Linked DNA regions of Homo sapiens: regions 1, 2, 3, 4, 5 and 6 are each linked to region 7. Evidence: fine-mapped expression QTL. A gene starts in region 7. Each other region holds a variant in brackets. All regions are shown on one strand. Distances are from middle to middle.

Region 1 (4,065 bases), 84 kb before region 7:
CCAAATCTGCTGCATTTAGGAGATTTCAATACAGTTGCTTTTTCCTTTTTCCATACTTGTGTTATCTGAAAAATATCTCAAGTAGAAGATGGCCCGTGATGCCAGCCCATGTCCAGGATTCCGTCAGCCTCGATGTAACTTTCCTGATCCTCGTTTCTCTCTTTGCCCTAACCCTTATAAGAAACACAGAAAGTGACTATGGATATTTTCTTCCCAAGCTCACACAGTGACGCCCAACCAGGGGTAGATAATGTGTCAAAATGCCCTAGGCTGGATCCTGATGGGGTGAGGATATAGAGGGATCAAACCACAGGCTTCCCCAGCAAGCCTCTGTTACTGACAGGAGTGTGTCCATCTCTCTGCTGGGCTAGGATAGAAAAACAGTTGCCAACCACTGATTAAAGCCTGTGAATGCACTTGAATTTTGAGCTTCTCCTAGGCAGGAATGAAGTAACTTACACTTTATTTTCTAAACTGCCCGGCACACAGGAGGTGCTCAGTAAATACTGGTTGAAAGAACAAACACTGTGCCTGGTACAACCCAGCTAAAGGGGACCTATGGGATACACATCTTTTAAAGTGAGCCCCCAGAAAGCCAAGGGAGAAAGAGGAACATTTATGCAGGGTTTTGGGGGTGCAGAACCCAACGAGGAATCCAGGCATCCACTCCTGTCTCAGCTCAGACGCGGGTCAAGCCTCACAAAGTGTCAAAGGGATCTGAAGCTAGAGCCACTAGTCATTAATGTTAACAAAGCCTGTCTGGGGAGGAAGCCTCAATGTGGAAGAGGGCACATCCTGCAACTTCCCCTGGAGGGAATAATGTGTATGGATTGGCCAACAGCAGTCCGTAGGGGTGCAGGGCCCAACAGTGCACAAAGCACTGCTGAGCAGAACCTGTCGCCCTTTTGGATCCAACTGTCGCTTTTTTTTTTTTTTTTTTTTTGAGACAGTCTTTCCCTGTTGCCCAGGTTGGAGTGCAGTGGTGCAATCTCAGCTCACCGCAACCTCCGCCTCCTGGGTTCAAGTGATTCTCCTGCCTCAGCCTCCCGGGTAGCTGGGACTAGAGGCTTCCACCACCATGCCCAGCTAATTTTTGTATTTTTAATAGAGACGGGTTTTCACCATGTTGGCCAGGCTGGTCTCGACCTCCTGCCCTCAGGTGATCCACTTGCCTCAGCCTCCCAAAGTGCTGGGATTACAGGTGTGAAACACCACACCTGGCTCCAATATCCCATTTTAAAAACAAATATTTAGCTTCTACTTTTCCATCCTGAATTGAAATTCATCGATACAATTATCATCTCTATAATTTAAAGTATCAAGATAATACTCTAACAAAGGAGAAATAAAGAGAAAAGCATTTTACAATAAAATAATACGCATTTTTACATAAATAATGAGGAATGACTATGCTTGCAGACAAAAACAAGCCCACAAGCCCCCCCACCAATTGCCTCATGCGTCCTGGGGTTGATACAACCCCACTGGGAACCACTACTCTAGCCCATGGGACCCCAAGCCACAGAGTTCGTCGGCCACAGCCACTCACCCTCTGGTTGCAGGAGAGGAGGCAGGAGGCAGGGTCTAGATTGGCCTGTTCTTGCTCCACAACTGACTCATGTGGCATCTGTAGGGATAAATGCAGGTGGAGGTGAAGCACTCCGTCCCGGGTACGGCCTTCCAGGATTCCTCAGCTATGCACAGGCTCCCCTGCCCACAGCTGCCAACTTCCTGCCCAACGATGTTGCTGCAGAGGAAGGAACCTCGGAAGGTCAGCAGGGGCAGGAAGGTTCTGGCAGCTGGACTTCACTTCCTCAAAAATCCCAGGCCAAGGCCAGGCGCGGTGGCTCACGCCTGTAATCCCAGCACTTTGGGAGGCCGAGGCAGGCGGATCACTTGAGCCCAGGGGTTCAAGACCAGCCTGGGCAACATGGTGAAACCCTGTCTCTATAAAAACATAAAAATTAGCTGGGCATGGTAGTGCATGCCTGTAATCCCAGCTACTTGGGAGGCTGAGGCACAAGAATTGCTTGAACCCGGGAGGTGGAGGTTGCATTGAGCAGAGATTGCACCACTGCACTCCAGCCTGGGCAGCAGAGCTAGACTTGGCCAAAAAAAAAATCCCAAGCCAGGAAGATTGGCAAGGTCAAATTTCTTTAAGTGTTTCGCCTTGTCACTTTTGGGGATGGGGGGTTGGTGTGTTCTTCACCTGTCTGGTCTCTACTTTAACAATAATATCTACCAGCACAGAGGGCTATGCCTGGACCCCCAGCTTTGCCCACAGGAGC[G/A]GTCTGGGCCAGCCCATCTAAGAGTCCAGAGATGAGATGAGGCCGCCCGGTGAAAGCCAGTTCCCCCATGTGTGTGGCAGCACAGTGCAGGAGACACAGTGTGACCCCTGGAGCTTGACAGGCTCACATCCCAGCTGTGTGGTCCACTAGCTGTGTGATGGCAAGTCACTTAGATTCTCTGTGCTTCCTCATCAATGATAAAATGAGGAAGATAAAACCTACTTTGCTGAGTTATATTGAGCATTAAGCATAATCGATGAAAAGCACCCAGCCCAGTGCAGGAAACACAGCAGACACTCAATAAATGGTTTTCCCCTCTCAAACGTCTGGAAGGCAGCCAAGGGCAGCAGGGAAGGCAGGCGACAGGGAGCCTCAGAGGTCTAGCTTCAAGTTCAGATCCTAAACTGCAAGCTCTACGTCTTATCAAATGGAAATGATGATGCCAACTTGGGAGGACTGACACGTGCAGGTTCCAGGGAAGCCCTGAGCTGGCCAGTCCCATGACTCCTACTAACCCTTGCCCAGTGCCATCGTAGCCACCTCTACCACCCTGTTTTTAACCCAGAAGCATCCTCCGGTCTCCCAGAGGAAAACCAGCCAGAGTGTTTACTGTATCATCTGCTGCCTCCTCCACCCCTTCGGAAGCCACTGTATGTTTACTGAGGGTAGGAGGACTGTGCCTTCCTCCTTGCAACTGATATCCTTTCTACCAAGGAAATGACGAGATAGTGTGGTCTCAATCTAAAGCAGGAGTTAAGGTTGGGCATGAGGAAGAACATCCCTGCCGAGGCATCTTATCTGTATAAACCTAACTCTTCCCATGCGTCTGTTAAGACACAGACAGTTATCTGCAAGACTGTGATCCCACTGAGTCTGAAGGTGGGAGATTAGGGCTGGTGACCTTGCAAGCTCCTAGCAAGGCTGGGGACCAGTGGGTCCTTCTAGGATAAATGTTCACAAACAGCCGTGGAGATTCCGCAGGGACCCACCAACTCCGGGGCCGCCCGAGAGAGCTGAGCTCACTCGGAAGTACAGGAGGTCGAGGCAGGCGGCAGTGTAGAGGTCGGCATAGCGCATCAGCTGGCTGGAGAAGAGTGTCTGGCGGAAACCGCAGCGGAACAAGCTGCCCATGGTGCTGTAGCACAGGTCCAGCTCCTGGGTGACCCTCTGGCCAGAGGGGCAACACACTGAATTGAAATCCCAGCCCGCTTAGGCCTGACCTGGCCTACTCCCTTTCTGGGCAACCCTGGCCTCTCTGGGCCTCTCACCGGGGGACATTGAAACCTGTGACTCTCTGTAGGAAGGAGCAGCATGTTGTAGACCCACAGGCTGCACACTTGGCTTTTGGAGGTGGGGCAGCTCCTCACTTTGCCACAGGCCCCGCTGCAGCTTTCCATCACAGTTACCTGCCTGGCCCTGAAGATGGACCACCCAGGACTAAACCCACAGCTTCATTTACCATCTGAGTCCAACAGAGGACTTGGCAAGGCGACACCCCCAGCCTCGCTCCTACTATCCTGGCAGGCCCCACCCCGCCACCAGGCCCTGTTTCCTGTCTGCTTTTAGAGCCTAGAGAATGGTTCCAACATTTACTCCCAGGATGACCTCTCTCTGAGCCTCAGTTTCCTCATCTGTAAAATAAAGGTGACAATCCCTGCTCCATCCACCTCTTAAGGCTGTGGGGAAGATCAAACGGCTGTGCTTTGTAAAAGGCTCTGCAAAGACCCTTTGTGATCGGCCCCAGCTGGGCTTGGGATGACCAAGTGACCTGACTCCC
Region 2 (4,065 bases), 37 kb after region 7:
CAACACCCCTTCATGCTAAAAACTCTAATAAACTAGGTATCGGTGGAACATATCTCAAAATAATAAGAGCTATTTATAACAAGCCCACAGCAAATATCATACTGAATGGGCAAAAACTGAAAGCATTCCTTTGAAAACCGGCACAAGACAAGGATGCCATCTCTCACCACTCCTATTCAACATAATATTGGAAGTTCTGGCCAGGGCAATCAGGCAAGAGAAAGCAATAAATGGTATTCAAATAAGAAGAGAGGAAGTCAAATTGTCTCTCTTTGCAGATGACATGATTGTAAATTTAGAAAACCCCATTGTCTCAGCCCAAAACCTCCTTAAGCTGATAAGCAACTTCAGCAAAGTCTCAGGATACAAAATCAATGTGCAAAAATCACAAGCATTCCTATAAACCAATAACAGACAAACAGAAAGCCAAATAATGAGTGAACTCCCATTCACAATTGCTACTAAGAGAATAAAATACCTAGGAATCCAACCTACAAGGGATGTGAAGGACCTCCTCAAGGAGAACTACAAACCACTGCTCAAGGAAATAAGAGAGGACAAAAACAAATGGGAAAACATTCCATGCTCATGGATGGGAAGAATCAATATCGTGAAAATGGCCATACTTCCCAAAGTAATTTATAGATTCAATGCTATCCCCATCAAGCTACCACAGACTTTCTTCACAGAATTGGAAAAAACTACTTTAAACTTCATATAGAACCAAAAAAGAGCCTGCATAGCCAAGACAATCCTGGGCAAGAAGAACAAAACTGGAAGCATCATGCTACCTGACTTCAAACTATACTACAAGGCTACAGTAACCAAAACAGCATGGTACTGGTACCAAAACAGAGATATAGACCAATGGAACAGAACAGAGGCCTCAGAAATAACACCACACAGCTACAACCATCTGATCTTTGACAAACCTGACACACACAAGCAATAGGAAAAAGATTCCCTATTTAATAAATGGTGTTGGGAGAACTGGCTAGCCATATGCAGAAAACTGAAACTGGACCTCTTCCTTACACCTTTTACAAAAATCAATTCAAGATGGATCAAAGACTTAAATGTAAGACCTAGGACCATAAAAATCCTAGAAGAAAACCTGAGCAATACCATTCAGGACATAGGCATGGGCAAAGACTTCATGCCTAAAACACCAAAAGCAATGGCAACAAAAGGCAAAATTGACAAATGTGATCTAATTAAACCAAAGAGCTTCTGCACAGCAAAAGAAACTACCATCAGAGTGAACAGGCAACCTACAGAATGGGAGAAAAATTTTGCAATCTATCTATCTGACAAAGGGCTAATATCCAGAATCTACAAAAAACTTAAACAAATTTACAAGAAAAAAGCAAACAACCCCATCAAAAAATGGGCAAAGGGTATGAACAGACACTTCTAAAAAGAAGACATTTATGCAGCCAACAGACATGAAAAAATGCTCATCGTCACTGGTCATTAGAGAAATGCAAATCAAAACCACAATGAGATACCATCTCATGCCAGTTAGAATGGCGATCATTAAAAAGTCAGGAAACAGGCCGGGCACGGTGGCTCAAGCCTGTAATCCCAGCACTTTGGGAGGCCGAGGTGGGTGGATCACGAGGTCAGGAGATCCAGACCATCCTGGCTAACACAGTGAAACCCTGTCTCTACTAAAAATACAAAAAAATTAGCCAGGCGTGGTGGCAGGTGCCTGTAGTCCCAGCTACTCGGGAGGCTGAGGCAGGAGAATGGC[G/A]TGAACCCAGGAGGCAGAGCTTGCAAAGAGTTGAGATCGTGCCACTGCACTCCAGCCTGGGAAAGATGGCGAGACTCTGTCTCAATAAAAAAATAAATAAATAAATAAAAAGTCAGGAAACAACAGATGCTGGAGAGGTTGTGGAAAAATAATGCTTTTACACTGTTGGTGGGAGTGTAAATTAGTTCAACCATTGTGGAAGACAGTGTGGCGATTCCTCAAAGATCTAGAACTGGAAATATCATTTGACCCAGCAATCCCATTACTGGGCTTATACCCAAAGGATTATAAATCATTCTATGATAAAGACACATGCACACGTATGTTTATTGTGGCACTATTCACAATAGCAAAGACTTGGAACCAACCCAAATGTCCATCAATGATAGACTGGATTAAGAAAATGTGGCACATATACACCATGGAATACTATGCAGCCATAAAAAAGGATGAGTTCATGTCCTTTGCAGGGACATGGATCAAGCTGGAAACCATCATTCTCAGCAAACTATCACAAGGTCAGAAAACCAAACACCACATGTTCTCACTCATAAGTGGAAGTTGAACAATGAGAATATATGGACACAGGGAGGGGAACATCACACACCGGGGCCTGTCAGGGGGTCGGGGGCTAGAGGAGGGATAACATTAGGAGAAATACCTAATGTAGGTGACGGGTTGATGGGTGCAGCAAACCACCAGGGCACGTGTATACCTATGTAACAAAACTGCACGATGTACACATGTTTGCCAGAACTTAAAGTATAATTAAAAAAAAAAAAAAGAAAAGAAAAGAAAACTCAGGGATCAGGGTTTTTAAGAATAATTTGGTGGGTAGGGGTCCAGTGAGCCAGGAGCACCGATTGGTTGGCTTGAGGATGAACTCATAGGCAGTCGAAGCTATCCTCTTATGCTGAGTCAGTTCCTGGGTGAGTGCCACAGAACTGGTTGGCAGGTCCAGGTGAGGCCAACCACTTGTCAGAAATGGAAAAACCTGAAAAGACATCTCAAAAGGCCAATCTCAGGTTCACAATGGTGATGTTATCTTCAAGAGTAATCAGGGAAGTTGCAAATCTCATGACCTTCCACGTAACAGCTGGTAATATTTAGAGTTCCAGCCCCTCTCATCCTAACTTGGTGGCTGGTGGCCTTTCATTCGTTTTACAAGAACAGATTTGCTTTTGGGAAGGGCTGTTATTTAAACTATAAACTAAATTCCTTCCCAAGGCTAGTTCGGCCTATGCCCAGGAATGGATAAGGACAGTTTAGAGGTTAGAAGCAAGATGGAGTCAGTTAGGTCTGATCTATTTCACTGTCATAATTCCCCATAATTTTGGCAAAGGCGGTTTCAAGATGGGCAGTCTTCTTCAGAACTCTCCCGAGCCAGTTTATCACCTGCTTCCCTGGTTCTGGTAAGCATGAGACTCCATGCCTTGCCCTCCTCTGAGTATAGCTGCAGACTAGAAAACACTTGGCTGGGCCAGGCACGGTGGCTCATGCCTGTAATCCCAGCACTTTGGGAGGCTAAGGTAGGCAGATCACTAGGGGTCAGGAGTTTGAGACTAGCCTGGCCAACATGGGGAAAACTCCGTCTTTACTAAAAATACAAAAAAAAAAAAAAAAAAAAAAAAAGAAGCTGGGCATGGTGGCGCATGCCTGTAATCACAGCTACTCAGGAGGCCGAGGCAGTGAGATGAGATCACACCACCGCACTCCAGCCTGGGCAACAGAGCAAGACTCTGTCAAAAGAAAGAGGAAGGGAAGGGAAGGCAAGAGAAGGCAAAGGGAGGGGAGGGGAGGCAAGGGGAGGAGAGGTTAGGTGAGGGGAGGCGAGGCGAGGGGAGGGGAGGGAGAAGAAGGGAAGGGGAGGCCAGGGAAGGGGAGGCAAGGGGAGGGGAGGGGAGGGAGAAGGAGGAAAGGGAAGGGAAGGGAAGGGAAAGGAAGGGAAGGGAAGGGAGGGGAGGGGAGAGAAGGGGAGGGGAGGCGAGGGGAGGGAAAGAAAGGAGGGAGGGAGGGGAGGAAGGAAGGCAGGCTTGACTGTAGCTTAGGAAGGAAGGAAGGCAGGCAGGCAGGCTTGGCTGTAGCTTAGGAAGGAAGGGGAAAATGCTTGTCTGTAGCTTAGAATTAGCACCCACACTCGACGGGAGGCGATGATACAAGGCATGTATATGAGGGAGTGGGAATTTGGGGACCACCTAGAATTATGCCTTCCCATCCCTGAGAGCATGTGCATAGCTACCAGCTATAAAGCTGCTTGGCTGCAGTGTGGTATGGGCTTCACCTGGCACTCATGTTGCTGCCATTTGGCCCCT
Region 3 (4,065 bases), 60 kb before region 7:
GGGAAGGTGCTCCAGGTCCCGCGGCCTGGGGTGATACAGACAGATCCTGTTACAGAGTGGACAGAAGAGAACTGGGAACAAGGATACAATCTGCCACAGCTATGAGCAGTTGGAAACGATGCTTAGTGTTCATCGTCACTAAATCTGACGTCAGGAATCTCTGGCACCCAGAATACCACCTCATACTGGAAAATCCCATGCCCTAGAAGCCTTCTCCAATGGCTGATGAGAAGGATCACCTAGGTTTGACTTTTGTGCCAATAAAAGGAAAAAAATAAAATATACGTGTGTTGTGTGTGTTTATGAACATATATTTATAAGTAGCTCCATGTAAAATAGTGAAGGTATATGCTGTTAAATTTTTAAAAGGCAAAAGTAAAATTATATGTATGACAGGCTACCATTTATTTATTGTTTGTTTGTTTGTTTGTTTTTGTGAGACAGAGTCTCACTCTGTCGCCCAGGCTGCAGTGCAGTGACGCAATCTCAGCTCACTGTAACCTCCACGTCCCAGGTTCAAGCGATTCTACTGCCTCAGCCTCTCGAGTAGCTGGAATTACAGGCACCCGCCACCATGCACAGCTAATTTTTGTATTTTTAGTAGAAACGGGGTTTCATCATGTTGGCCAAGCTGGTCTCGAATTCCTGATCTCAAATGATCCACCCACCTCAGTCTCCCAAAGTGCTGGGATTATAGGCGTGAGCAACAGCGTCCAGCCTATCATTTATTTTTTTTATTGGGGGAGAATACATATACATTTCTGTTTATATACACATAAAACATTTCCCAAAAGATCAATAAGAAGCTGGTGACAGTGGCTATTTTAGGAACAAGAACTAAGGGACTGAAAGTGGGGAGGAAGGCTTGCTTTTCACTGTATACTCTTCTTATAACTTGGATTTTTTTTCCTTTTGTTTAGATTATCTTTTCCAAGAAATTTGTTCTCATTAAAAATTTTAAAAATTGTCCTTTCTCACGCACATCACATATCTCTCTGTCTATGCTTCCTTCATTGCTCCCACATTGGGACATGCCCTGAATTCCCATTCCTACAGCCTGAGAAAGCAGAGTTTCCAGAAAGCACTAGAAAATCCAAGAAGAACAAATACCAAGATCTACAAAGCAAAAAAAGAGCTCATGCTCCAACAGGCCAACCCGCTTCCTGTGGTTGTACAGACCACACTCCCTCACCACTGGCCTGATAAGCCCCTTTGAGTAAGGTGAGATCTGCAGATAGGGCTGAACTCTTGCGTGAGTCAGGAGTCTTTGCAGCAAAGGGGGTGGAGAGAGGGGAAGGAAAGGAAGAGACAGAAAGAGAGCAGCAACACGTGCAAAGGAAGCCAGGACTGGATGAGATGGAGGCCACTGGTGCCCCCAAGATCAGGGACTCTACAGATGGGGCTGCCTACCATACCATAGGCTGCCGAGACCTCTCCTCTGTCTTCTTCACATGCCCACTCCTGCTCCAAACCTCCCATACACCACATGCTTGCTGTGAAGAGATCCCTTTGCAGAAATCTCAAGGGCTGACATTTTTACCATCTGGAGGCGTGGAACCAGGACAGCACCCATAGGAACAGGAGCTAAAGTCAGAGATAACATGAGGGCATGGTGTCTAGGGAAATGGTGGAAATTCTGAGGAGTACTTTGGATTTCTAGAAGGCATTGAATTTGGAGTGC[A/G]AGCCAAGCTTATGTCTAAATAAGCCTAGAGCCCACAGTGGTCACTGGGTTTCACAAGCAAAGGTCATGAATATAGAATGTTCTTGCATGAGTGGTGGCGAGGTTGGTCTGCATCACTGGTCATCTGCTGTGAATTTTTTCAGGGGAAGCTCACATCCTCGGAGGCCTTCGCCTCACCCTAGAAAGATACAAAATGCCCTGGAGAAATGCTGTATTCACAGCACATTTGCACAGGACACTGTGTCAGTCACTGATCTGGAACACTTTGCTTGCTTACCTCCTTGAGCTATTGGTGCAATAACCATATGCAGATGGGCTAGCACAGGCTCCTGGGCTCCCTGAGTCAGTTCCACAGAACCCGGGATCAACAAGGAGTTACGAGAGTTCCATGGAACAAATAGAAGACATGATTAAATACATTTAGGGAAGATGGGAATAAACAAGATTTATGACTGCAGGACTTCTCAGAGTTTTGATGCTTTGATATGCATAATGAGCCCCCAAGAAGGGAATTATAATAGAGAGTGTATCTCAAACTCCTTTGACCATGGAATCTTTTAGAACAGCATCCCAGCCAGGGTTGCAAGGAACACATCTTGGAAGCCTCAAGTACTTCCAAGGTCAGCAGGCAACAATCAGGCAAGCCTATCGAAAAGAGAACTTCTGGGAATGAAAATGGGGATACTCTGGCTTGGTTTTTACATCCCAACCAGTGCCAATTTCCATCTGGAAATACTTTTGCCAGGTCTGCCACAACCTGAGACCTCCACATCATGCAGATTTGGTTTAGCCAAAGGTACCATCGAAGTCTACACCCCAAGCCATTAACTATAGAGACTACAGAGGAGTGGGATTAGGGTGACTGAGGGGAAACATTCACATCCTACTTTATACACTTCTATTTTATTCTTTTTTAAAATAACAAGCATGTATTTCTTTTTACATTTCTATGTATATAGTAGATGTGACCCTTCAGGAAGACTCAAGAGAGCACGGAGCTTGTCTTTCTTGTTCCATAGCATATCCACAGTATCTACAGGGATTGGCATGTAGTAGGTGCACACTCAACATTTATTGAATGACTCAAGCTGTGAAAAAGGGTGAAGACAGTAGATATAAGAGGGAAGAAGGCAAAGACCGAGACTGAAAAGCGTACTCAAGGACAAGGAAAAAAATGAGTTCAAACTTTTAAAAATGAGACCGGGTGCAGAGGCTGAGACCTGTAATCCCAGAACTTTGGGACGCTGAGGAGGGCGGATCACCCGCGGTCAGGAGTTCAAGACCAGCCTGGTCAACATGGCAAAACCCCATCTCTACTAAAAATACAACAACAGCAACAAAAATGAGCCAGGCGTGGTGGTGCATGCCTGTAATCCCAGCTACTCGGGAGGCCGAGGCAGGAGAATCACTTGAACCTAGGAGGCGGAGGCTGCAGTGAGTGAAGATCGCACCATTGCACACCAGCCTGGGCAACATGAGTGAAACTTCATCTCAAAAAAACAAAACAAACAAACAAAAAAACCAACTTTTAAAAATGAACTTAAAGGCTGGGAGCAGTGGCTCACACCTGTAATCCCAGCACTTCGGGAGGATGAGGCAGGTGGATCACCTGAGGTCAGCAGTTCGAGGCCAGCCTGGTCAACATGGTGAAACCCCATCTCTACTAAAACTACAAAAATTAGCTGGGCATGGTGGCACATGCCTGTAGTCCCAACTACTGGGGAGGCTGAGGCAGGAGAATCACTTGAACCCGGCAGGCAGAGGCTGCAGTGAGCTGAGATTGCACCACTGCACTCCAGCCTGGGCGACCGAGCAAGATTCCGTCTCAAAAAAATAAATAAGTAAAATGAACTTAAAAATTCCCTATAGAGTTTCAAAGTGGTTAATTAAAATGCAGTAATATTGAAAGACAATGTCAAGAGAATGAGTAGAGAAGCCAGGAATTGGTAGAAAACATTTGCAAAAGACACATCTGATAAAGTACTGTTATCCACTTTATACAAAGAACTCTTAGCCAGGCGTCATAGCTCATTCCTGTAATCCCAGCACTTTGAGAGGCTGAGGTGGGTGGATTGCTTGAGACTAGGGGTTCAATACCAACCTGGCCAACATAGTGAGACCCCATCTCTACAAAACAAAATAAAAAGTTACAGCTATTCAGGAGGCTGAGGCAGAAGGACTGCTTGAGCCCAGGAGGTTGAGTTTGCAGTGAGCCATGACTGTACCACTGGACTCTAGCCTGGGCAACAAAATGATACCCCGTCCCCTTTGCCCCCGACAAAAAAAAGACCTAAAATGCAACAACTAGAAAACAAACAACTCAATTTAAAAATAGGCAAAAGGCTGGGTGCAGTGGTTCACACCTGTAATCCCAGCACTTAGGG
Region 4 (4,065 bases), 55 kb before region 7:
CATGGAATGTACAGCACCAAGAGCAAAGTCTAATGTAAACTATGAACTCTGGGTGACGAGGATGAGTCAGTGCAGGTGCATCGATTTTTAATATTTTGGTGGGGGATGTCCACAGTGTGGGAGGTTGTGCATGGGTGGGGAGAGGTGGATGGGAACTCTGCACCTTCTGCTCAGTTTTGCTGTGAAACTAAAACTGCTTTAAAAGATAAAGTTTATTAATTTTAAAACAGCAATGATTGATGGGGCACGGTGGCTCAGGCCTGCAATCCCAGCATTTTCGCTTTGTGCTAAGACCTACAAATTATGTAGCTGGCCCAGTCTGTAACAAGATCCATATAAGAATGCTAAAATTAGTGGGTAGAAGTGAGGTAGGAGGCAGGACTTGACTCCAGATGAGATTGAAGACTGGCTGAAACAGAGAAGAGGCACCAAAAATATCTTTCCATAAGACTCACCCACCAGTGCCATGACAGTTTACCATTGCCATGGCAACATCTGGAAGTTATGACTCCTTTTCTAGAAATTTCTGAATAACCCATCACTTAATTTGTATATAAAATACAGGCCAGTCATGGTGGCACATGCCTGTAATCCCAGCACTTTGGGAGGCTGAGGCGGGTGGATCACTTGAGGTCAGGAGTTCAAGACCAGCCTGGCCAACATGGTGAAATCCCATCTCTTCTAAAAACATAAAAAATTAGCCGGGCGTGGTGGCACATGCCTGTAGTCCCAGCTACTCAGGAGGCTGAGGCAAGAGAATCGCTTGAACCAGGGAGGCAGAGATCGCTCCACCGCACTCCAGCCTGGGCGACAGAGTGAGACTCTGTCAAAAAATAAAATAATAATGATAATAAATAAAGTACGTATAAGTATAACCGCAGAACTGCCCCTGAGCTGCTGCTCTGGGCACATTGCCTATGGGTAGCCGTGCTCCAGAAGAAGCAGTTCCTCTGCTGCTGCCCTTCACTACCGCATCTATAAAAGTTGCTGTCTCACACCACTGGCTCACTCTTGAATTCTTTCCTGAGCAAAGCCAAAAACCCCCTCTGGCTAATCTCCAATTTGGAGGCTCACTTGCCCTGCATCAGAAGCTTAAGAAAAATCAGGATATTTCAGTAGCTTCAAAGTACCTCCCCCAAAATACTTGTTAATTACAAGGGGGAAAATAGAAACTTTACAGTGGAGTAACCAGCTGGACACTGTCTTAGCCAAGCAATCAGAGTTAATATCATGTATCCTGACATGGTACACTGGTAGAAAAGCACATTACTTCTGCATTATTCTCCCCCCAAATCCATAACCTTCATATAACCATGAGAAAACATTGAATGGACTTATATTGAGGAAGATTCTACAAAATGCCCAACCATTACTGTTAAAAACTGTCCACGTCATGAAAAGCAAGAAAAGACTGAGAAACTGTGACAGATGGGAGATTCAGAGGATATCATTACTAAATCAAAACAGGATCCTAGATTGGATGCTGGACAGAAAAAGGACATTAGGTGGAATACTAGGGAAACCCAACTGAAATCTATGTATTAATTAACTCCACTGAGTCAATGTTACCTTTCTGACTGAAAGTCATTGTACCATAATTCTGGAGGACAGTAGGGGAAGCTGAAAGAAGGATTTAAGGGAACTCTCTGTACTATCTTTGTAACTCTTTGGGTCATAAATTATTTCAAAATTAAAAAAAAAAATTTAAGCAATCATAATTCAGAAGGCAGTGATGAAATACACCATAAGCAAAACCAAAAGCATGTGACACTGTGGGAAGAGGAACTTACAACTCGTAACACAGACAAGAGTGAATCTCCCTAATACATAAAGAGCTTTGAGAAAAACATCAATAACC[A/C]AATAAGAGAAAAATGAACAAACAATTCAAAGAAAAGGAAAACAACTGGCTCTTAAATGTATAAGATCATCAAAATCTCTCATAAAATAACTGCAAATTAACACTACAGATAATTTTCACCTATCACATTGGCAAAAATCCAACTAGTTGATAATATTCTCTGTTGGTGAGTCTGTGGAGAAAGAGGAACTTTCAAACATTATTCGTGGGAATGTAAATGGATGCAACCACTTCTGGAAGGCAATCTGACAGCATCTATCAAAATTAAGATAAATCAGCCAGGTGTGGTGGCTCATGCCTATAATTCCAGCACTCTGGGAGGCAGAGGCGGGAGGATCTTTTGAGCTCAAGAGTTTGAGACCAGCCCAGGCAACAGAGCAATACCCCATCTCTGCCAAAAATGTTTAAAATTAGTTGGCTGTGATGTAGTCCTAACTACTTGAGAAGCTGAGGTGGGAGGATTGCTTGGGCCCAGGAGTTTGAGGCCATAGTGAGCCACGATGGTGCCACCGCACTCCAGCCTGGGCAACACAGCAAGATACTGACTCTACAAAAAAAAAAAAAAAAAAAAAAGATCAATCCTTTCTTTGACCCATTCCACTTTTACACTTCAGATTGATTTGTACAAATCCAAAATGTCCACATATATAAGGCTGCTCATGGTAACACTGCTTATAACAGTAAAATAAGTAGCATATATCCATCAATAGAAGGCTGGTTAAATAAAGTTAAGGCCCCACAGTAATGCAATACTTTATACACATACGACTTTGAAAAGTGAGGTTACCAGGGACTGGGGGGAGAGGGAAACAGGGAAATGCTGGTCAAAAAGTACAAAGCTTCAGCTATTCAAGATGAACAAGTCCTAGAGATCTGCTGTACAGCATGGCACATATAATTAACAATACTGTATTGTATACTTAAAATGGTGTTAAGAGGACAGAGCTCATATTAAATGTCATTATCACACCCACAAAAAAAGAGGAAGAGAGAAAACTTTTAGATTTGATGGTTATGTTTATGGCTTTTTTATGGTGACAGTTTCATGGGTATATATTTATTTTCAACTCATCAAGATGTACAAACTGAATATGTACAGCTTTTTGGCATGTCAATCATACCTCAATTAAAAAAAAAAGAAGAATGAGGAAGCTTTCTATCTACTAGTAAGGAAAGACCTCCAAGATTTACCAACAACTGTGGGGGAAAAGTTTGCAGAACAAATAGTATCTACATTCTGCATGAAAAAAAAAAAGAAGGGAGTAACAACAACAACAAAAATAACCCCATTAAAAAGTAGGCAAGAGATATGAACAAACACTTCTCCAAAGAAGACATACACACGGAGCCAACAAACATATGAAAAAAATGCTCCACCCACTGATCATCAGAAAAATGGGAATCGAATCCATAATGAGATACCGTCTCACACCAGTCAGAATGGCTATTATTACAAAGTCAAAAAATTAAAAAAAAACCAGCTGATGAGGCTGTGGAGAAAATAAAAGGTTTAGACACTGTTAGTGGGAATGTAAATTAGTTTAATCACTGTGGAAAGTAATTTTGAGATTTCTCAAAGATCTTAAAGCTGAGCTTACCATTCAACCCAGCAGTCCCATTACTGGGTATATACCCAAAGGAAAACAATAGTTCTACCAAAAGACTCATGTACTTGTATGTTCATCAAAGTGCTATTCACAGTAGCAAAATCATGGATTGGTGCTCATCCATGGATTAGATAAAGAAAATGTGGTACCTCTACAGTATGGAATACTAAGCAGCCATAAAAAAGAGTGAAACACATCCTTTACAGCAACATGGATACAGTTGGAGAACATTATGCTAAGTGAATTAATGCAGGAACAGAAAACCAATGCCACATTTCCTCACTTGTAAGTGAGAGCTAACCATTGGATATACATGGACACAAAAATGGCAACAATAGGCACTGGGGACTACTAGAGAGGGGAGGGAGGGACGGAGGGAGGGAGGAGGGGAAGGGTTGAAAAACTAACTATTGGGTACTAAGCTCACTACCTGAGTAACCGGATCAATTGTACCCTAAGCCTCAGCATCACGCAATATATCCAGGTAACAAACATGCACATATACCTCCTGAATCTAAAATAAAAGTTGAAATTATTTATTTAAAAAAAGAGGAATAAGAATCTATATTTGAAGTTTCTTCCATTTGCATAAAGAAACTG
Region 5 (4,052 bases), 30 kb after region 7:
TAGCCAGGATGGTCTTGATCTCCTGACCTCGTGATCCACCTGCCTCGGCCTCCCAAAATGCTGGGAATACAGGTATAAGCCACCATGCCCAGCCTAACCTGATGCTGCTTTTACTGTCCAGTTATGCTTCCTGGATCTGGGCAATTATAGATACTGATGATATTGATCATGAGTATGAAGTGACGACTCCCAAAGTGGTCCCGGCATGGCACACTATGTGAGGGAGTGGAAGATGTTCTAGATGGCACAAGTTGCAAACACACACACGCACACACACACAAAGCTGCACTGCTTAGGAATAAACTCAGCCATATGGTGTGTATTAGACTGAGTGAGGACTGCAGGGACTAGCTATACCTATCTCATGGCCATGAAAAAACATCAAAAGCCCAGGATGGTGGTGAAGGAACACTCTAGATCTCTCTTGGCTCTTGCCTGCAGAACACCTGGCTTGGCCTGTCATCTCAGAATCTTTTTGTCATGTTGTCCAGGCTATCACCACTGCCCTCAGTCTAACTACTACTCCCATTCTATCGAGAGACCTTAAATCGAGGACCTCCAACTTTAGAAGTGGAGAACTTCTGCCCAAGACATCAGAAAAAAGATAATTTTCTGGACACTTAGGTTTCTTTCCTGCTTTCTCCTATCCTATTATTGCTGGTATCTCTGGTCCCCTTCCACTACCTAAAAAAAATAACAAAACTTCCTTGTGTTGCTCAATCTGTCTTACCCCTCCTGACCCTGCTGACAAACTTTTAATAGCTCCTCCTGCCTGGGCTCGATGGCTCATGCCTGTAATTCTAGCACTTTGGGAGGCTGAGGCAGGTCGATCACTTGAGATCAGGGGTTCGAGACCAGCCTGGCCAACATGGTGAAACCCCGCCTCTACCAAAAATATGAAAAATTAATCAGATATGGTGACATGTGCCTGTAATCCCAGCTACTTAGGAGGCTGAGGCAGGAGAATTGCTTGAACTCAGGAGGCGGAGGTTGCAGTGAGCCTAGTTCGTGCCAAAGCACTCCGCCTGGGGGATAGAGCAAGACTTCATCTCAAAAAAAAAAAAAAATCTCCTCCTTTGAGTACTTTGGAAGTATTCTTCCAGGAACTATTCCTTCTTTCAGGCTCTTTCTGATACTTAAATTTCCTTTATATTGTTAATCCCAGCCTCCAGTCTTGTGAGAATTGGACCTTGACGTCACGTCAGCACTGTGCTGCTGCTGTGGTCACCCAAACCTATTAGCAGAATCTAATTCGCCCTGAGCAGGACGTAGCATTGAGACTAGGTTGGGCTACGATAGCCGGAGACTTATACTCTTACAGTTTTGCCCCAAATGAATAGCACTTCTTATGGTGGATATCAGGCATATAATTGCCTACCACGCACCTAGTTTGGGCTATCAAGTGTGAGCGGTAATGGATGATCACATTGCCCTGGATTTTCTGCCAGCCAGCCAAGTAGGACATCTGAATTAATGACATACCTAACTGGCTTGGCTCTGGATGGGAAGTCTGATTGCAGCCTATCTTTTTCCAAGCAGGCCTAATTGTCCTCCTGGGAGTCATCATCATGGTTACTCTCATTTAATGTTGCCTAAGGAAAAGGATTTGGTCCAACCTTCTACCAGTACATCTAAGGTAAGTGATGGAGAATTTCCAGGCCAGGCATGGTGGTTCACACATGTAATATCAGCACTTTGGGAGGCCCAAGTGGGCAAATCACTTGAGCTCAGGAGTTTGAAACCAGCCTGAGCAACAAGGTGAAACTCCACCTCTACCAAAAATTCAAAAATTACCAGGTGTGGTGGTGCACACCTGTGGTCACAGCTACTTGGTAGGCTGAGGAGGGAGGATCACTTAAACCCAAGAGGCAGAGGTTGCAGTAAGCCAAGATTGTGCCACTGCACTCCAGCCTGGGCAACACAGTGAGACCTCATCTCAAAAAAAAAAAAAAAAGAATTCCCAGGCTCAGCACAGTGGCTCATGCCTGTAATTGCAGCACTTTGGGAGGCCGAGGTGGGTGGATCACTTGAGGCCAGGAGTTCAAGGCCAGCCTGGCCAATA[T/G]AGTGAAACCCTGTCTCTACTAAAAATACAAAAAATAGCCAGGTGTGGTACCACATACCTGTGGTCACAGCTACTCAGGAGGCTGAGGCATGAGAATTGCTTTAACCCGGAGGCAGAGGTTGCAGTGGGCCGAGATTGTGCCACTGCACTCCAGCCTTGGGCAACAGAGTGAGACACCATCTCAAAAAAAAAAAAAAAAAAAACAATATCCAGAAGAATTATCAGCGGGGTATGTGGAAGGTCCAGCATGGTGGTATGGAGTGCCAACTCCACAGTGCCCTGGCAACCCTGCATGTCTTCACTTAGGCCATGTAGACAAGGCTCAACCACAGTCTGACTCCCCTTGTGCAAGAACACCCGAGGCTCCTGAAACACGGTGAGATTGTAACCGCCCAGTGGGTTCACTTTGCCCCCTGCCTAGACAAAGCCCATTTTTCAAGACAGGGGAATTACATGGAGAAAAAGTAATTCATGCAGAGCTGGCTGAGCAGGAGACCAGAGTTTTATTATTACTCAAATCAGTCTCTCTGAAAACTCAGGGATCAGGAGAGAGGTTCAAGATGGCCGAATAGGAACAGCACCAGTCTGCAGGTCCCAGCGAGATCGATGCAGACGGTGGGTGATTTCTGCATTTCCAACTGAGGTACCTGGTTCATCTCACCGGGGCAGGTTGGACAGTGGGTGCAGCCCACAGAGGCTGAGCGGAAGCAGGGTGGGGTGTCACCTCACCTGGGAAGCGCAAGGAATCGGGAAATTTTCCCCCTGACCCAAGGGAAGCTGTGAGGGTCTCAGCCTGAGGAACTTGGGCACATATACTGCACTTGTTCCATGGTCTTCACAACCTGCAAACCAGGAGATTCCCTCTGGTGACTACCCCACCAGGGCCCTGGGTTTCAAGCACAAAACTGGGCGGCCAACTGGGCAGACACTGAACTAGCTGCAGGAGCTTTTATTTTATTTTATTTTTCCATATCCCAGTGGCACCTGGAACGCCAGCGAGACAGAACTGTTCACTCCCCTGGAAAGGGGGCCTGAAGCCAGGGAGCCAAGTGGTCTGGCTCGGCGGTTCCCACCCCCATGGAGCCCAGGAAAGTAAGATCCACTGGTTTGAAATTCTCGCTTCCAGCACAGCAGCAATCTGAGATCCACCTGGGACGGTGGCGCTTGGTAGGGGGAGGGGCGTCCGCCGTTGCTGAGGCTTGAGCAGGCGGTTTTACCACCACAGTGTAAGCAAAGCTGCTGGGAAGTTCAAACTGGGTGGAGCCCATTGCAGCTCAGCAAGGCTGCCGTGTTCAGACTGCGAGATTGCTCCTCCCTGGACAGGGCATCTCTGTAAAAAAGGCAGCAGCCCAGTCAGGCTTGTAGCAGACTTAAACGTCCCTGCCTGATGGCTCTGAAGACAGCAGCGGATCTCCCAACACAGCATGCGAGCCTGCTAAGGGCCAGACTGCCTCCTCAAGTGGATCCCTGACCCCTGTGTATACTGACTGGGAGACACCTCCCAGTTGGGGCTGACAGACACCTCATACAGAAGAGCTCTGGCTGGCATCTGGCAGGTTCCCTGCTGGGTCGAAGCTTCCAGAGGAAAGAACAAGCAGCAATCTTTGCTGCTTTGCAGCCTCCACTGGTGATACCCAGGAAAACAGGGTCAGGAGGGGACCTCCAGCAAACACCAGCAGACTGGCAGCAGAGGGGCCTGTTAGAAGAAAAAGAAACAAACAGAAAGGATTAGCACGTCCACTCAAAGACCCCATCCGAAGGTTACCAACATCAAAGACCAAAGGTAGATAAATCCACAAAGATGGGGAAAAACCAGTGGAAAAAGGCTGAAAAATCCAAAACCAGAACGCCTCTCCTCCTCCAAAAGATCGCAACTCCTCGCCAGCAAGGGAACAAAACTGGACAGAGAATGAGTTTGACGAACTGACAGAAGTAGGCGTCAGAAGGAGGGTAATAACAAACAACTCCGAGCTAGAGGAACATGTTCTAA
Region 6 (4,065 bases), 540 kb before region 7:
ATGGAGAAAGTAAGGCCCAGAAAGGGGAAGTGACTTGCCCAAGGTTGCACAGGATGTGCAGCAGGGCCAAGATCAGATCCGACACATCCTGATTCCCAGGTCAATGCTTCGTCCACACACGGTGCTGCAGATGGAGCAGGACCAAGCCTATCTCCCTGAGAAGTCGAGAGAGAGACAGAGGAGAGAAGGAGAGGAGAGGTGACTAGAGGAAAATTGCTCCCAGGGCCTTTCTCAAATCCCATGAAGCCTCCTCCCTTCACAGTCTGCCCTGATGGCCCTGCCTCAGGTGGTGCCAGCCCAAGGAGGGGCTGTGTTTTAGGGAGGGTGATAGCCCCAGGCACTGGGCTGGGTGGGCTCTGCCTTCCCAGACAGGAGCCAACCTGCAACTTATAGCGTTCCCAGGCTTCCCTCTGAGAAGTTAGTGCTTAGAACAAGAAAGTCCATGGCGGGCGCAGTGGCTCACTTAATCCCAGCACTCTGGGACGCCCAGGTGTTTGGAACACCTGAGGTCAGGAGTTCAAGACCAGCCTGGCCAACATGGTGAAACCTATCTCTACTAAAAATACAAAAATTAGCTGGGTGGGGTGGCACACACCTGTAATCCCAGCTACCTGGGAGCCTGAGGCAGGTGAATCGCTTGAACCTGGGAGGTGGAGGGTCAGCCAAGATGGCACCACTGCACTCCAGCCTGGGCAACATAGCAAGACTCCGTCTCAAAAAAAAAAAAAAAAAAAGAAAGTCCTGAGAAAATGGACCTCCACAGGCACAGCCCTAACTGCCCCACACTGGGGGCCCTGGCCCATGGTGGAGAGGACTCCCATCAGTACCCAGGAGCTTCTCTGATCTTGGGCTCCAAGAGCTGCTCTGGTAATAGAGCTGCTCTGGGTAATAGCTCTTCATTGTTCTCAGGGAATTGAGATATTAGAAAATTACAGCCACACTCTACCATATTGAGTCTCCTTATCTCTTAAGGAGAGGCCTCCCTGGGAAAACTGTGCTCCCTATTGTCTCACAGAGCATGTCCCCATCCTTAGTTGATATTAAGAATCTCTGCCATTGTCATATGGGCCTGATCTATTGACACTGGACAGGGGAATAATGACAGATGGTGAGCTAAAAGTAACAACATGCTGAAATCTGTCAAGAAGAGAGAGGACTGGACTTTTGAAATAGGCATCTCTCTGTTAGGGGCAAAGGTCACCCTTGCAGGCTGAGCGCTGCCCTGTTACAGTTGGGAATGTCTTGGAGATGGGAGGGGAAGAATCTGAGAATGGCCTGGAACATGCTGCAATTGGAGGAGCTGTTTGTTCTCCAAACGTATCTAGGCATGGCCCCTTGGAGCTGGTGAGATGGAGACATTTATGGACTTAATTATCAGCTGACATCAGCTGACATCATGGCATTGATAAAATGTCCTATCATTCTGAAGACAACACTGGTCCTGATTTTCTGCTCTATTACCCTGCTATATACTGATGCAGGTTATCCCCAAAGCTCTTAGCGTCAGAAAAGAATGTTCTGGGCCTGGTGACCCCCGAGGAAGACCCTCCCTTCTGTGTTCCCAGCACAGCCCCGGTTGGTTCCCAAGACTGGGCTTACCTCACTCTCCCCGTGACCAGGAGGTGCTGCAGGAGCCCCCTCAGCGGCAGCCACTGAGGCCCAGCAGATGGAGTGTGGTTTATAGATGGGCACAGGGAATGGAGGGGTACAATGCCCACTGATAGCAGCGCCGTCCCCCAAATCTGGCTCACTTTCCAGCTCCCACAGCACTGTGTCTTCTGGGAGGGGAGGCTCCAGAGTCGCTGGGCTCTCAGGTCCAGTCCTCACACCTGCATGGGAGTCTGAAGCCCCCCAGGAAAAGCACTCTCCAGAAGCACTGTTCTCTGAGCAAGGACTCGCCAGGAAGAGGGGGTTGCTGAAGAACATGCTCTCCTCCTCAGCTCCCCACTGTGGGGAAG[A/G]GTCTGGGGTTCCCTCTCTCAGCCATGCCTGGCCCTCTCCCTCAGGCTCACTGCTGTCTTCCCCTGAGTCTTCATTCTCAGGTGGGCTGGAGTGCAGGCCCGTGTCCCCGGGGAGGTCCACAGGGGGCGTGGGGAGACAGCATTTCAGCCCAGCCTTGAGCCCTTCCGTCTTCTCCAGCTCCTCCTCCAGGTCTAGGACACACATCTGGGCCTGCAGGATGCCTGCCCAGAACACTACCTGTGTGGACGTGCTCCGGTTCTGCTTTGGGCTCCCCGGTAGATGGCTGTTCACTGGTGACCCTGGTGATGCTGTGTTCTGCCTGTGCTCCCTCTGGGCAGAGGGGCTCCCCAGGTGTGTGAGCTCCACACCGGAGCCCCAGGGAGGAGCATCTTGTCTGGTAGATTCAGGAGGGTCAGTGGCCCGGGTTTGCTCCTGGCAAGGCTCCAGCCCGTCCTGATGGACCCAGCTCCCCAGGTGTGTGAGCTCCACACCGGAGCCCCAGGGAGGAACATTTTGTCTGGTAGGTTCAGGAGGGTCAGTGGCCCAGGTTTGCTCCTCGAAAGGCTCCGGTGGATCCTCATGGCTGCACGTTTCCCTTGGGCACTCTCCTGGGTGGGGCTCCAGGCTGTCTCCCAAGTACAGGTTGAGAATTTCCATGGGCTGGGGGTGGTCAGGGAGTCTGTAGTCACCCATCATCCACTGAGCAAAAGCTGCCCAGGAGTGCCCCGGAGCATCTGCTTTCACGGTCTCACTGTGTGGACTAGGGGGAGCACTGGCCGCTGGAGAAACTGGGAATCCATATCTACCCTGGAAATGCCCAAAGCAAGTGCAGGTTAGGGAAGGGCTGTCAGCCTCTGGAGGCACGTGTGTAGTGTGTTAGATGTGTTTGGAGTGTCTTCCCCATCTATGCCTGCTGCTCCTTAGCACTGCCCTCCACAGCCCTGCTGGGAGTAAGGAGTGTACCACATATTCCATCTGATCCCACAATCTCTAAACTTGCACCAGGGCAGCACCTGCCCCAAAGACACCCATCTGTTGGCTGAAGGTAGCCCATGTGGCTTAGCTGAAAAGAACAAACTGGCCAAATCAGATCCTTCTCTTGGGCATTTGGATTGGAGAGTGTGGAGACCGAGGTGGTTGGCAGCAGGAACTGAAGGCGGAAATGCCTCTAGGTATCAAGGAAGCAGCTGCAAGCCACAAAGGACATGTAAACCAAAGCATGTGGGAGCCAAACAGACACAGACGAGGTGAGGAGAATGCAACAGACTCATGGAAGAAGCAGGCACCCACGACATGAAGGCCACAGCCTGCCTTACTTCCACTTTCCAAGGCTCCTATCCTTGGGGCCTTACCCTGTTCACCAGGCTGGCTCACAGCCTGCTTCTTTGTCCTTGTAAGCTGTTGGCAGCTTGGAATTTGGCCCAGGTGGAAGCAGCAAGGGGCTCTCTGCTTAACTCAGCCCAAGCCCTCATGAAGGGAGGATGCTTCAGCCCTGCTGCCTACCACCCAGCAGACTGCCTGCTGCATGGGGAGGAGATCTCTGCCTTCTAGGGAGGAAGAGGCTGGGATGTGGCAGCCATGTCTGCCTGGAACTGCCTCACATCTGCCCAGAGCTGCTGTGTGCACAGCCTGCACTAACACTCTGGGTGGGCCCTTATCAGATGAGCCCAGGAACCTCGCAGGGTGTTTTCTAGAAGCATGCATTTCCATCCCCTGCATGCAGCCCACCGCTTACACGGCTCTCAGAGCAGCCCTGCTTCCTCAGAATAGCTGGCTTGTTTTGATCCAAAGCACACTGTGAAGCTTGTAACTTGTTTGTCTCATGGTGCTGGCTCTCCACAAAGTGGAAGTGCAGGGTCAAGTACACAGGTCCTTATGGCATGTCGTAAGCACTCCCCTGGCAGCTGTCTTTTTTTTTTTTTTTTGAGACAGAGTCTCGCTCTGTCACCCGGGTTGGAGTGTAGCGGCACAGTCTTGGCTCACTGCAACCTCTGCCTCCTGGGTTCAAGCGATTCTCCTGCCTCAGCCTCCCGAGTAGCTAGAATTATAGGCGTCTACCACCATGCTCTGCTAATTTTTTTTTTTTTTTGTATTTCTAGTAGAGAT
Region 7 (4,065 bases):
TTTAAGAGTTCAAAATTCTTGGGTCTGTCCCTCGACGTTAGAACACATCCTCCCATACCTAATGCCATGGTAACATATGACGAAAACGAAAATTAAGAAGCCGTTTGGAATTAAACATACCAATTTTTATCAGTTCAGACCACTTGACACCCTCCTGCCCCTTTGCCACGAGGGAGAAACCAATAGTTGCACCAACAATACAATGGGTTCCAGAAATAGGGAGCTTCAAAAACGAAGCCACGAGTTGCCACACAGCAGAACCTGAAACATAGTAAAGTTTTATTAAGTAAATATCAAAATTCCATTATGTAAGTGGCACATTCAGAAAGGTTAATCGGAAAGGTTATGCACAAAAATGGAACCACCCATGATACAAATTTGCTCACCCACCACGAAGAGGACAAAACATAAAAAGAACTTACCAAACATAGCACTGACTGAGCCGGCCATCAGCAGCCCTTGAGTCGAGTTGTACATCTCCACGTCAATCAAGCCCTTCCGGATGGTTTCGCTCACTTTGGCCCCCAGTAAGACAGAGCCCACTGTTTCAAAGATGCTAGCTAGGATGCAGGCTTGCTTCAGGGTCACTACACCTGAGCCCACAGCTGTACCAAAAGAATTTGCTACATCATTGGCTCCCACGGAGAATGCCAAGACAAATGCAATAATGAAGCCCAGGATGAGCATCCATAGGTAGTCCACCAAAGGACCAGAAGCGGCGGTAGCAGCTGTAGTACTGGTAATCAGCGTTGCCATTCTCTGGAGTAGTGGTTGTTTAGTAAGAGAACTACTGAGCGCCTTTCAAGATGTGTAAACAGAATATGAGGTATCAAAAATGCTATAATAAATAATATATATTATATAAAATTAAATACTGTAAACTACGGCACAGAAACCGAGCTGGGGAGTTACTGCTATACGCTGCGTATGGGCATCTGTTGTCTGGGGTTTCTTTGGCTCAGGAGGGCTAAAAGCACGGAGCAGAATTCCATGGCGGAGAAGAGAAAGGACGCAAGTTCATCCTGCGGGGGAGGGGGGAAATAACAATAGCTGCGTGCCCCTGGGGGGCCAGTGGGGCACCCCGCTCTACCCACGCGCCCGGGGTCCCGCAATAGCCTCTGCCGGCTACTCCAGACCCCCATCCCCAGTAGGACGCGCGAGAAGGAGAGGCACGTGGCTCCGGGTCCTCCGCGGCCCGCGCGCGCCCAGCCCAGCCCCTGCGCTGCCAGCCCGCGCGCGCCCTCCGCGCGAAAATCGGAAAAGGGCCGTTCCCGCGCGCGCCGCCCGGGGACCGCCAAAAAGGCCCGCGGGCGGGCAGACGGGCGGAGTGGAGGCGGCCAGCGGCGAAGAGAGAAGCCAGCCGCGCCGCCCACGGCGTCCGCCTCCAGCGCCACGGCGTCCGCGCCCGGCCCCGGGGAGAAGAAAGAGCCTTTACGAGGCGGCGCCACTACTCACCAGGGAAAAGGGAGGGCGGAGCGGGAGACGAGGAGATCGAGGCGACAGCGGCTGGAGCCACGGGCACACGGCCCGGGTCGGCGGCACCGGGGACAGCTCAGCGGGACTCACGACCTTCCCAGGAAGCAGCCGCGGGGGTTTCAGCGGCCGAGAAGAAGAACCACGCAGAGAGCGCCGGCAGCCATCACTCCAGCGGAGCACCCCGCCGGCCCCTACTTATAGCCCGCGCAGCGACCCGCGTGACCCCGCCGCGCCTCGCGCCGGCCCCGAAGCCCCGCCCCCGGCATGACGCAGCCCTCCTCGGCCCGGCGTGCCCAGCCGGGTGAGCCCGACGGTGGCGCTCATTGGCCCGGCCCGCTTCGGCGGCCACGCCCCCAGCGGGGAGCCGGTCCACGTGGGGCGGGACAGCCCCCTCCCTGCGGCCTCGCCCTGGAGTCTCGGCACCGTCTGGCCCCGCCGGCTGATTACAGCCAGAGATCGAGGGGGACCTCGCTGTCCCCCTAGAGGCCGTCATGCGGGGTTACAGAGGCTGCGACCAAAGTCATTCCTAGCTCCTCTCTCGGGGCTCCGGAAAGCCGTCCGCGCCTCCAGCCGCACTTTCAGCGCACGCAGGACCTGCCGCGCCCGGTGGCCACACCCGTCCCTCTGCCGGGTGACGCTGCGGGAGATCTTGCGCCCTGGGGCTCCGGATCCAGTTCTGGCACGTTGTTGCACCTGTGACTTGTCCTTGGCCTGGCACTGTCCCTCGCCTGGGGGAAGCGGGGGGGTGGGGGGGGGATGCTCACGTGGTCGCTTTGCTCCCGCAGTCATGCACTTGGGTGAAAACAGACTGAAGAGTCACGGGAACCAGCTTGTCTCCCCAGTTATGGCGCAGAGCTGCAAGGATGGCTGTGGGTCATTAATTTCTCCGTGGCTGACCTGTGTTTGTAACGCCGCAGCTGTTGCGAGGGGGAAGGACACTGCTTCGGATTCAAATTCTGACTCCTTGCTGCAGTGTGTCACCTTGAGCCAGTCCCAGATCTCTGCGTTCTCACAATTGTAAAATGTTAACAGAGGCTGCCTACCTTGTGGCTGGAATTAAATGAATTAACGTGTGTGAATGTGACTAGAATTCAGTACATGTTCAGGAAAAGCTGATTTCCGCTTTGCTGTTACCGTGAATATTACTGTTTTAGGGTGTAGAAAAGGGTGGAAGGGGATGTTATTGCATCCTGGAAGCTTATCCTTTTGAGGTAAAGATTGATTTCTGGTCCCCTGCGTGGTATATAGTGTAGTTTTGACATTATTTAGATGTGTTATGCACATTTGGGTGTTGATTATATGGCTTACGATCAAGACTAACCAGTCATGCCGTGGGAGATTAAGGTCGTGGTCTCTTGTCAGGATTGTAGTGAGATTTAAAAATTCCAGCCAGAAATACCAGGCTTAGAATGCTCTGAAGCCCTCCCCACATTTTTGCCATCTCTAGCAGGAGGGCACTGCATAGCAGAAACAAAGACGTTGTAAATTGTTGCTGCCTGAGTCATTTATAGAGGCTTAAACAACCTGAATGTCCTCTGACCTACCTGTAACATTTGATGGAGTTGTATGAGTAACTTACAAAGCTGTAGGTCCCAAGGTCGGTCTGAAAAAGAAAGTTCATATCCGGGAGCACTGACCCCGTAGTGTAATCCTGGCACCTTAAAACGTACTGCTCCCTCCACCTTCACTTCAAGGTTATGAAAACATTGAGTAAAAGGGATGATCTGTTCAAAGTCCTTAGTGTTCTGCCAATTTAAAACAGTAATTTTCAAAGCAGTTATTTGCAAGGAAATTGCCTAGAACTTCTCCCAGTGTGCGGTTGTTTTGTGTGTTTGTGTGTGTGTTTTGTTTGTTTGTTTTCAGTCTGTCCACAGGCGTACTTTTATAGGTCTGTGATAGTAGGTAGCTCTTCAAGTTGGCAAACACCTGCTGGACAACCCCTGAGAGATTCATCTGAGTGAGAGAGCACTCTCCAGCCCCATCGGAGTGGGTTTGCAGGGAAATCATAAGGTAGAGATTCAAAGGAATTCCCTTGCGTTGCAAATGAAAACTGTATCTTCAGACTCTGATATAGTGTAATCCTTCCTTTTTAGGAAGAAATCCTTATCTTTCCAACACTGAGATGCTTCTGCCGAAGAGTAGAATGGGAGGTGAGGAATTGGGGTGGGCCCTCACTGCTTTGCCTCCGGATCAGTAGGGTACAGCCCTTGGAGACCAGGATCTTCCTTGGCTGGGACACCTTCGTCCTCCCCTAAGGGAGGAGAGGTAGGGATCTGCCTGTGGAAAGAAGTTACAGTGCCTTTTAAATAGAAATAGGAGGTAGGAGGACCGTCAGTTGTCAGTTCGTGCACAAATGGCATTGTTTCTGGCCTTATCTCTGAATGCTGAGGAAACAGGTCAGAGATCCTAAAGAGAATCTAATCTCTTAGAATCCAGGCATTGGCACAAACCCCCTCTAGCATCTTAGGGAGGTGGTTTGGTGTAGTGGTTAAACACATAGACTGTAAGACCAAACCACCTGCTCTGTCACTCACTAGTCCTGTGACCATAGGCAAATAAATTATCTGCCTCAGTTTCCTGATCTGTAAA

Which allele goes with the higher level. Positions count from the first base shown, and alleles are read on the strand shown. Sizes are in standard deviations (SD) of each study's normalised expression. Not every link is listed here.
As copies of A replace G in region 6, the expression in regulatory T cells of the gene that starts at base 1,646 in region 7 goes down (large effect, 0.85 SD a copy in Bossini-Castillo 2019).

What was found.
Region 1: its variant is fine-mapped to the expression of SLC20A1 in whole blood (TOPMed, PIP above 0.99).
Region 2: its variant is fine-mapped to the expression of SLC20A1 in whole blood (INTERVAL, PIP above 0.99).
Region 3: its variant is fine-mapped to the expression of SLC20A1 in whole blood (INTERVAL, PIP above 0.99).
Region 4: its variant is fine-mapped to the expression of SLC20A1 in whole blood (TOPMed, PIP above 0.99).
Region 5: its variant is fine-mapped to the expression of SLC20A1 in whole blood (TOPMed, PIP above 0.99).
Region 6: its variant is fine-mapped to the expression of SLC20A1 in regulatory T cells (Bossini-Castillo 2019, PIP 0.95).

The regions. Positions count from the first base shown.
Region 1 is chr2:112,727,189-112,731,253 of GRCh38, reverse strand. NT5DC4 (5'-nucleotidase domain containing 4) reads right to left here. Exons shown (of 17, transcript NM_001393655.1): 16 at 1,550-1,627. Among named protein-coding and RNA genes, the nearest start is that of NT5DC4, 8.2 kb to the right of the region's middle. RefSeq lists an enhancer at 3,721-4,065. The variant G/A (reference allele first, on the strand shown) is at 2,289.
Region 2 is chr2:112,606,856-112,610,920 of GRCh38, reverse strand. All of the region lies in intron 1 of LOC124907869 (a long non-coding RNA gene), which reads right to left. Among named protein-coding and RNA genes, the nearest start is that of CHCHD5, 24 kb to the right of the region's middle. The variant G/A (reference allele first, on the strand shown) is at 1,754.
Region 3 is chr2:112,703,565-112,707,629 of GRCh38, reverse strand. No RefSeq gene overlaps it. Among named protein-coding and RNA genes, the nearest start is that of NT5DC4, 15 kb to the left of the region's middle. The variant A/G (reference allele first, on the strand shown) is at 1,682.
Region 4 is chr2:112,698,132-112,702,196 of GRCh38, reverse strand. No RefSeq gene overlaps it. Among named protein-coding and RNA genes, the nearest start is that of NT5DC4, 21 kb to the left of the region's middle. The variant A/C (reference allele first, on the strand shown) is at 1,859.
Region 5 is chr2:112,613,919-112,617,970 of GRCh38, reverse strand. LOC124907869 (a long non-coding RNA gene) reads right to left here. Exons shown (of 2, transcript XR_007087193.1): 2 at 2,547-3,758. Among named protein-coding and RNA genes, the nearest start is that of SLC20A1-DT, 28 kb to the left of the region's middle. The variant T/G (reference allele first, on the strand shown) is at 2,063.
Region 6 is chr2:113,181,047-113,185,111 of GRCh38, reverse strand. PSD4 (pleckstrin and Sec7 domain containing 4) reads right to left here. Exons shown (of 17, transcript NM_012455.3): 2 at 1,600-2,766; 3 at 39-155. The coding sequence starts at 2,655. Among named protein-coding and RNA genes, the nearest start is that of PSD4, 9.1 kb to the right of the region's middle. The variant A/G (reference allele first, on the strand shown) is at 1,959.
Region 7 is chr2:112,643,520-112,647,584 of GRCh38, reverse strand. It overlaps SLC20A1 (solute carrier family 20 member 1), which reads right to left and starts at 1,646. Exons shown (of 11, transcript NM_005415.5): 1 at 1,456-1,646; 2 at 423-1,022; 3 at 121-261. The coding sequence starts at 756. SLC20A1-DT (SLC20A1 divergent transcript) reads left to right here and starts at 3,405. Exons shown (of 5, transcript NR_033871.1): 1 at 3,405-3,486; 2 at 3,570-3,626. RefSeq lists silencers at 399-693, 1,155-1,984.